Homo sapiens: one gene and its partner. The protein of the gene in region 1 purifies or fractionates together with the protein of each later gene. This does not show direct contact. Each region holds a gene or a part of one and is shown on either strand. Other genes may lie near its edges. The genes, in order: SPIN2A and PRDM7.

Region 1 (4,062 bases):
TCTGGCATCTTTGACAGTTGCCACTTCCTTTGTGCATAGAGCCAGGAAGAGCAATGTGGACACTACCAGAAGTCCAACATTTTCCTGGGCCTTCCGATCTCTCATGGGCCCCATACCCCACAACTCTTTTCCTGTATTCTCACTCCCTCTGTCAGTCTTTCTTCTTTGAATTCCTCCTTCCTCAGTGGCCCTCTTCTAATCCCTCCAACACCCTAACCCACATAGCCTCTTCCTTTGTGTATCCTTTAGCCTCTCCCAGATCCCTGTCAGGTTGATCCTTCTCCACCTTACTCTGGACCCTCTTCTAAGCTTCTTTGTGTTCCTCTCTACTCAGTTTATTCTATTTTCCTCTAAGCCCCAAGATCTCACTCTCCCTCTGTTAGTCTTCCTTCTGAGTTGGATGTTTCCTTCTCATAGGTCATCCCCTCCCCCAAGGAGCCCCTCCCTTTCTGGCCCTTTTCCACCTCTTCCTAAGCAGTCACCTCCTCCTCTCTCCCCAAGACAGCCAATCTCTTGTTCCTTCCCCTGCCCCCTCCAGACCAGACCAGCTAAATCCAGTGCCATTTTTAAATGACTGATTATGATTCTAGCTGAACTTTATTCACAGCCGAAATTGACAGCTGTTCGTTCCTTCCATGCCCCATCTACCAAACACACCCGAACTTTTCAACAAGACAAAGGGCTTACAGACAGCATGTCATGTATTCACAAATTTGTATTTTTTAGAGCAAAACAACAGTTAATGCTGGCAAAGATGTTTAGTTATCAGGGATTCCATAAGCTTTCAGTACACTGAAAGGCAACATTTTTTGCATGTCTACAAATTATACATTTGTTTCCACACATGTGCCAAATTTTACCCTAACAGTTAGGACTTTTTCACCAAATCGTAGACATAGATATGGAAATCATCATCAAACTTGATGAAATACACAGAGGGTTTGGTTTCCACTTGGTGAATGACCATGCCGATCCTTTTGGAGCCATCTTCTTTGGTATATTCCACATGCTTACCTATTAGGCCATCTACAACTCCTCCTGGCTCCCTCTCTGTTGGAGGAGACTCACTGGATTCTGGCATGATGCGGAGGTCACCTTCCTTATAATCATCTAGAAGCTGGTACATGTACAAGACAGGATCTTTCTCATAGGTAATATAAAACCAGGCTTTCATGATAGGTGCTTGAGCTAAGACCATCCCCCTCCATTCATCCTTAGAACCATGCTCTCCCTCAAACATGTGTTCCACTGCTTTGCCAATTATGGTATTTGCAAGGTTGGCATCACTAATGTGAGATGATGCCACCCTGTCAGAAAGAATTTTAAGAGACAAAACCCTTTCATCTCTGTGAAGTTCCAGTCCATAGACACAGTCAATTCCATCATATTTCACCAGATAAAGAGAGGGATTTATAGGCACCTGATCCAGAACGGTTCCTTTCCACTGCGTGATGGGCTCATCTCCTTCCTTCCATCCATGAGAAATTCTGCAGCCCACGATGTTCCTGCGGGGCTGGGATGAAGGTCGGCCTCTCTGCTTCTTTTGGGAGACTTTTTTCTTTGTCATGTTTGCAGACCCAGTGGCCCGTCCTGCAGCTGCCCTGGTTTGTTGCCCTTCGGCTTCCTGTGCGTTGGGGGTCTTCATGCCTGCTGGGGGAGGAGAGAGGATAGAGAGACACACCCAGTGTGCCACAAGGCAAACTTTTCCCTATAGCCATGTCTGGATGTAGTCTGCGCTAGTGCCTAAGTTTCCCCTAGGAGCCTGGAAGCAATGCTGGAAATCCTGGCTGCATGCCCGCAGTGCTCTCCCTCTTAAGTTCCTTTGGGCTGTGGGGAAGGGCTGGGGTGGTGCAGTAGAGCTGTCTGGGGTTAGGAACTCTGCAGAAGTGGCTGGGCCACCTCCTCCTAGCTCAGAGCCCACTGCCCTCCCTTTACCCTTTACTGCCACTAGCATCCACTCCCAATCCCCTGCAAAGCGGCCTTGACCAGCACCCACTACCCTCCTGCCCTGAGTGCCTCTGGTGCTGTCTGTAACCCCCACTGCCTATCCTAACCACTTCCCTGTTACCTACCTCCCTTGCTTCCTGGCGCTCACCTTCAAATCCTTGTCTGGCTCCTATTCCTACCCCCTTTCCCTGTCGTCCACCGCACTCCCCCACCCCACCCTTGCCTGGCGCCCAACTCCACCCCATGTCTCCTGCTGGATTCCTTCCCATCCCCCTCTCCATTCTGGCGCCCACTAATGGCCTTGCCCTGCCTGGCGTCCACCGCCGGGGATCGCGGGCCTCACGTGCCGAAATCGGATACCTCGATGCTGCCTCTGCTGTGAGCCTGTGGCGAAGGAGGGTCAACAGGCGACTCGCTGAGTGACTGCTTGCAAGAGCGGGGAGGGTAGGATCCATAGATGAGGAGCGTGTGTAGGAGCGCGGCGAGACAGGCAAAGAGCACTGCAGCGGTGTCCCCAGCGCTTCGCTCGCTGGCCGTCTACCTCCCTGTTGGTGGCGGCCACCCCTCAGCCACGTTGGGCTGCCACCAGTCCCTGATGCAGTGGCTGTAGTCTCTGCCCTTTTTCTGCACAAGACTACAGTGTTAGTTTCCTCTTAGTAGTGATGTCTTCCATTCTAATCACAGAGCAGATCTGCCTTTCTTTTCTTGGGGCCCCTCCTGGGCTCCTCCTTCCCTTTCCACAATTCACAACAGTGGAACCTGTAGGTGGCCTTTTCTCTCTTCCTGTCTCTGCTGGCTGGATCCTTCAAGCTCTCTAGCCCCTCCCCTCAGCTCTCTTGCTCCATCTGTTTTCCATCTTTCAGACATTTCTCACATTCTTTGGAAACATACAAATTAACATAGAAATACCATGTGTATACATTTATGGAGACATGAATCCTTTACGACCATATGCAAATGTGTATGTATGTATATATATATATATCTCCAAGCACATGCACATGTATAAAACTATGAATTCTGTGTACAGTTCCAGAAATTCCTATCCATAGATTCTTAATTCCAAATACACACCTCTATCCAATCACATAACTCACAGATATAATTCTCTGTATATGCATACACACTCACGAATACATACATTAAGTGTTTCTCCAAAGCATTATGTAGGCATATTTTAGATTTGGAGACCTTGCTTTGAAGAAGTATTGGCTTATTTTAAGCTTAAAGAGTTATTTTTGAATGTGATTACAATACTTAACAAACCTTATCTATTTCGCATAAAGTGAAGTCATTTTTAATTTTTGTGTGTTTTTTTGTGAGTTACAGTTTTTCACAGTATCCTATAATTCTGAAAATAATCAACAATATTAGATTGCTATATCAAGTAAGATGTTTTCAGTTACATGTTGTAGGACAACAAACCAAATGGGTGTACAATAAAAACAATATGTTGGCTAACATCTGAAAAGTTAAATAAGTGTTAGGTTAATCTTAATCTATGGTGGAATAATATTTTATTATATATATATATATATCACATTTTTTATCCATTTATTTATTGATGGACAGTTAAGTTGATTCCATATCTTGTCTATTGTGATCAGTGCTGCAAATAAATATGTGAGTGCAGATAGCTCGTTGATATGCTGATTTCCTTTCTTTTGGATATATACCCAATAGTGAGATTGCTGGATCTTAGGGAATTTGTAGTTTTAGTTTTTGGAGGAACTACCACGCTGTTTTTCATAATGGCTATGCTAATTTATATCCCCACGAGCAATTTACAAGGATACCTCTTTCTTCACTTCCTTACCAGCAGTTTTTATTTTCTGTCTTTTTGATAATAGCCATTTTAACTGGGGTAAGATGATATCTCATTGCTATTTTGATATACAATTACCTGATGATTAGCGATTTAGAATACTTTTTATATATCTGTTGTCCATTTGTGCGTCTTAGTTTGAGAAATGTCTACTCAGCTCTTTTGCCCATTTTTAAATCAGATTATTTGATTTTTTACTATTGAGTTGTTGGAATTTCTTACATATTTTTATTATTAATCCCGTCAGTTGAATACTTTGTAAATATTTTCTCTTGTTACCTAGGTTGTCT
Region 2 (4,580 bases), on another chromosome or scaffold:
ATGGGGATGAGTATGGCCAGGAACTGGGCATCAAGTGGGGCAGCAAGTGGAAGAAAGAGCTCATGGCAGGGAGAGGTAGGCATCACTATTACTCTTTTAAAAGGACAGGAAAGAAAGAATTATCCTAGAGAATTTTCATGATTGAACTCTTAAGTAGAGTAAAACGCCGTCTAAAGTCAGTAAAATTTTACATCAGTGGCTTCCAAAATTAAAGATTCATGTTATATGCCTTTGCCTCTTTGGAACAGTTTTTATATTTTTAAATCTTTGTTCCGATTTTATATTCAAAGTACTTCATGCACAAAGTATATAACAGCATACAGTGCTCAAAGACTTAAAGACAAAAATCAAGTTCTCAAACACCTACCAGCTCTCCCAACAAGGTAGTTTCTTCTGGCATTTCCTTGATATTTCTTAATGATACGCATATGTTGTTATTCATTCATTCATTATCTCAATTAGCTGTCATGTGAGTTCCTACTCTGTGCCAGACGATGTTGCAGGAAGTGTAAATACAGACTGATGAAGACAATCAAAAAAACTGCTCTTGAACAGATAACTTGTGAATTAGGGAACCGTACGAATACACACAGACATATGTGTAATATCAGACGGCGATTAGTGCTTTGAAGAAAATGAATCCAGAAAGAATACCTGGGATCAGTGTGAGACCTGGGATCGGTGTGAGAGCTGAGGTCAGTGTGAGACCTGGGGGTCAGTGTGAGACCTGAGGTCAGTGTGAGACCTGGGGGTCAGTGTGAGGTGACAGTAGAGTGTTGCAGGGGATTGTCAGGGAAGATTTCTCTTAGGAGACAGCATTTGAGAAGTGCAAGTGCCTGTGGGCCAAGGATTCCAGGCACAGGGCGCAGCTAGTGCAATGGTCCTGAGGCCAGAAAGAGTTCAGCTTTGGTTCATTTTTGGAAAATAGGCTGCCATGGGTCATCCCTTCAGAGCTGCTCCAGTTTCCAAGTGAGAGAAAATGGTGGGCAGGATGAAGGTGGGGAGCATGGCGGTAAGCCTGAGTAGGGATATATTTTGAAACAAGACTTCCTATTATATTTAAAATGGGTTCAGACTGAATGAAATAACTCAGACATGAATACTTGATGTGCAGCCTGACAAAGAGCATATTCTCATTTTATGATTTGTGGAATCTGAAACAGAAGCAGTCCATGCACCTAGTTGGCGCAGCAGGACCCACAGTCCTTTAGTCAGTGGGACCTGGACCACTCTGTGTTGGCCAACCTGAATCACACTTCCTGATGGAGAACCGGGCACATAACAGTCCTCAATTAAATATGTCCTTTTGAATGAGGATACTCAAATTCAGATTTGCTAACACATCTCTTTAACCACATTTGTGGATCTCCAGGCTGAGTGCTCCTAATAGATCCTTTTCCCCTCTTAGGAAGTCACTAAGGACAATCTCACCTAAGTCATCAAGAGTGTTATTTCTCAATAGAATAAAATAGCTGAAAACCTCGCGTCGCAAAAGTGCCCAGGGCCCAGGGAGGGAGCATGTGGCAGAGGTGATCAGGGAAGGCTTTACAGGACTTGGAAGATACCTGTGGCATGGGGGAAAGGTCACTGCAGTTCCATCTATGTAAGGAATGATGCTGCCCCTGATGCTGCTTGAGGTTACCCAGAGTCTGGCTGATACGTAGAAAAGGCCCAAGATGTGGGATTTCTGGATTTTTTAAGATGTAGTGAATAAAAGTGGAATGGAAAAATGGACTGTAAAGGTCCATCCAGCACTTGGTGGGAGAGAGCTTGCATTGTTAACATATGAAGAATGACTGGTTCTTCATTTGATCTTCATACCTTCATATGTAGTAAGGCCTGAACAAAACATCTACCCTGACCAAAAACTTCCTCTTTCAGAACCAAAGCCAGAGATCCATCCATGTCCCTCATGCTGTCTGGCCTTTTCAAGTCAAAAATTTCTCAGTCAACATGTGGAACGCAATCACTCCTCTCAGAACTTCCCAGGACCATCTGCAAGAAAACTTCTCCAACCAGAGAATCCCTGCCCAGGGGATCAGAATCAGGAGCGGCAATATTCTGATCCACGCTGCTGTAATGACAAAACCAAAGGTCAAGAGATCAAAGAAAGGTCCAAACTCTTGAATAAAAGGACATGGCAGAGGGAGATTTCAAGGGCCTTTTCTAGCCCACCCAAAGGACAAATGGGGAGCTCTAGAGTGGGAGAAAGAATGATGGAAGAAGAGTCCAGAACAGGCCAGAAAGTGAATCCAGGGAACACAGGCAAATTATTTGTGGGGGTAGGAATCTCAAGAATTGCGAAAGTCAAATATGGAGAGTGTGGGCAAGGTTTCAGTGATAAGTCAGATGTTATTACACACCAAAGGACACACACAGGGGGGAAGCCCTACGTCTGCAGAGAGTGTGGGAGGGCTTTAGCCGGAAGTCAGACCTCCTCAGTCACCAGAGGACACACACAGGGGAGAAGCCTTATGTCTGCAGAGAGTGTGAGCGGGGCTTTAGCCGGAAGTCAGTCCTCCTCATTCACCAGAGGACACACAGGGGAGACGCCCCAGTCTGCAGGAAGGATGAGTAAGTCATTAGTAATAAAACCTTATCTCAATAGCCACAAGAAGACAAACGTGATCACCACACACTTGCACACCCCAGCTCTGAGGTGGCTTCAGCGAAAGTCTGCTAACCCCTTACATTCCCCGAGAGTGTAAAGAGATCGGAAATAACTAATTAAACAAATCCGCCACTTTCATGACTAGAGTTGAGGAAGAACAGGGGATAGTTCTGTAAGTGTTCGGGGGACGTCAACATGTGTGGTTGTTTCCCGCACTGATCCCCTCCATTTTTTGTGTTTTGCCTCCTGTTCTAATTAATTTTGTCTCCATACATATCTGAACCCCAAGTGTGTACCTCATTCTTCCCTTATCACTGAAGGAAGGAAGAGTCCAGAAGGGCCACAGAGAACTCAAACGTTCAGTTCAAGTCTCCACAGGAATTCAACCCCAGAAAGACATAAACTTGGAGTCCATCTGGTTTAATTATTGGAGAATCGATTCCCAAGTCCAGGAAGAGAAATGTAGGGTTTTACAGAGTCGCAGCAGGAAAGAGAGCTCCCTGGTCTCCTGGGAAGTGTGACCTCTTCTAATGGACCCCTCTCCTCTGCTGCCATACTCCCCCTTGGCTCCCCCTGTCTCCTCTCCTGATTTCCTCCAATCTCTGTAGCCCCAGAAGTGAACGCCAGACAGGAACACGCATGTGTGTATATATGTGTTCACGTGTGCTATGTGTGTTAAGCCTGCATGCATGGGTGTGGGGGTATGTGCCCTCTGTGTACGTATCTGTGTGAGTGTGGGGGTTTCAAGGGTGTATTAGGAATAACGCTCAAAATCCTAAGGAAATTGAATACTCTGAGAGAAGAGAGACAGACCCTCTCATACTGTTTTATATTGTTTTATACTCAGAAAAGGAAAAAGAAGCAAAACTAAAGGCAGGTAGCCTGGCGCCTAGGAACCAGACCTGAAACCAAGGAACCAGACCCGAAACCAGGCCTGGGCCGGCCTGACCTAAGCCTGGTAGTTAAAATTCGACCCCTGACCTAGCAACTGATGTTATCTATAGATTATAGAAAGACATTGTGAAACTTCCCGGTCTGTTCTGTTCCACTCTGACCATCGGTGCATGCAGCCCCTGTCACCTACCCCCTGCTTGCTCAATCGATCACGACCCTCTCACGTGGACCCCCTTAGAGTTGTGAGCCCTTAAAAGGGACAGGAATTGCTCACTCGGGGAGCTCGGCTCTTGAGACAGCAGTCTTGCTGATGCTCCTGGCCGAATAAACCGCTTCCTTCTTTAACTCTGTGTCTGAGGGGTTTCGTCTGCGGCTCATCCTGCTACAAGAGCACTGGTTCAATTAGCTTTTAATATTTAACCTAACTACTCAGTCAGTGCTGAGACAGTTGTAATGGAGGCTGGTGTTAGTGAGACCTGGCCTGCCACAGCTACACTTAGCTCTCTTTCCTTTTCTTTTTTTTTTTCTGAGACAGAGTCTCACTCTGTTCCCCAGGCTGGAGTGCAGTGGTGTGATCTCAGGTCACTGCAACCTCCGTCTCCTACATTCAGTGATTCTCCTGCCTCAGCCTCCAGAGTAGCTGGGATTACAGTCACCCACCACCACACCCTGCTAATTTTTTGTATTTTCAGTAGAGATGGCATTTCACCATGTTGGCCAGGCTGGTCTCGAATGCCTGACCTCGTGATTCACCCATCTCAGCCTCCCAAAGTGCTGGGATTACAGGTGTGAGCCACCGCACCAGGCTCACTTAGCTCTTTTCTTCTACTAAAACATAATCTGAGAAGTAAAAATAAAATCATAAGCCCTCTGTATTATTCCATTTTCACATTGCTATAGAGAAACACCTGAGGCTGGGTAATTTATAAAGAAAAGAGGTTTAGTTGGCTCATGGCTCTGCTGTATAGGAAGCATAGTGGCTTCTGCTTGTAGGAAGGCCTTGGCAAGCTTCCAGTTATGGCAGAAGGCAAAGGGGAGGGAGACATCTCACATGGTGGGAGCAGGAGCAAGAGAG

What was found.
Region 2: the proteins of SPIN2A (region 1) and PRDM7 purify together in Homo sapiens (affinity purification with mass spectrometry; one large-scale study listed by BioGRID and IntAct). This does not show direct contact.

What each region holds. Positions count from the first base shown.
Region 1 is NC_000023.11:57,134,953-57,139,014, forward strand, and holds SPIN2A (spindlin-2A), read right to left. Parts: upstream 2,446-4,062; 5' UTR 2,308-2,445; exon of another isoform or gene 2,253-2,307; intron 2,190-2,252; exon of another isoform or gene 2,096-2,189; intron 1,925-2,095; exon of another isoform or gene 1,651-1,924; 5' UTR 1,646-1,650; coding exon 869-1,645; 3' UTR 698-868; downstream 1-697. UniProt on the Homo sapiens protein: May be involved in the regulation of cell cycle progression. Exhibits H3K4me3-binding activity.
Region 2 is NC_000016.10:90,055,836-90,060,415, reverse strand, and holds the end of PRDM7 (histone-lysine N-methyltransferase PRDM7), read left to right. Parts: coding exon 1-75; intron 76-1,881; coding exon 1,882-2,127; 3' UTR 2,128-3,850; downstream 3,851-4,580. UniProt on the Homo sapiens protein: Histone methyltransferase that selectively methylates 'Lys-4' of dimethylated histone H3 (H3K4me2) to produce trimethylated 'Lys-4' histone H3 (H3K4me3). May play a role in epigenetic regulation of gene expression by defining an active chromatin state.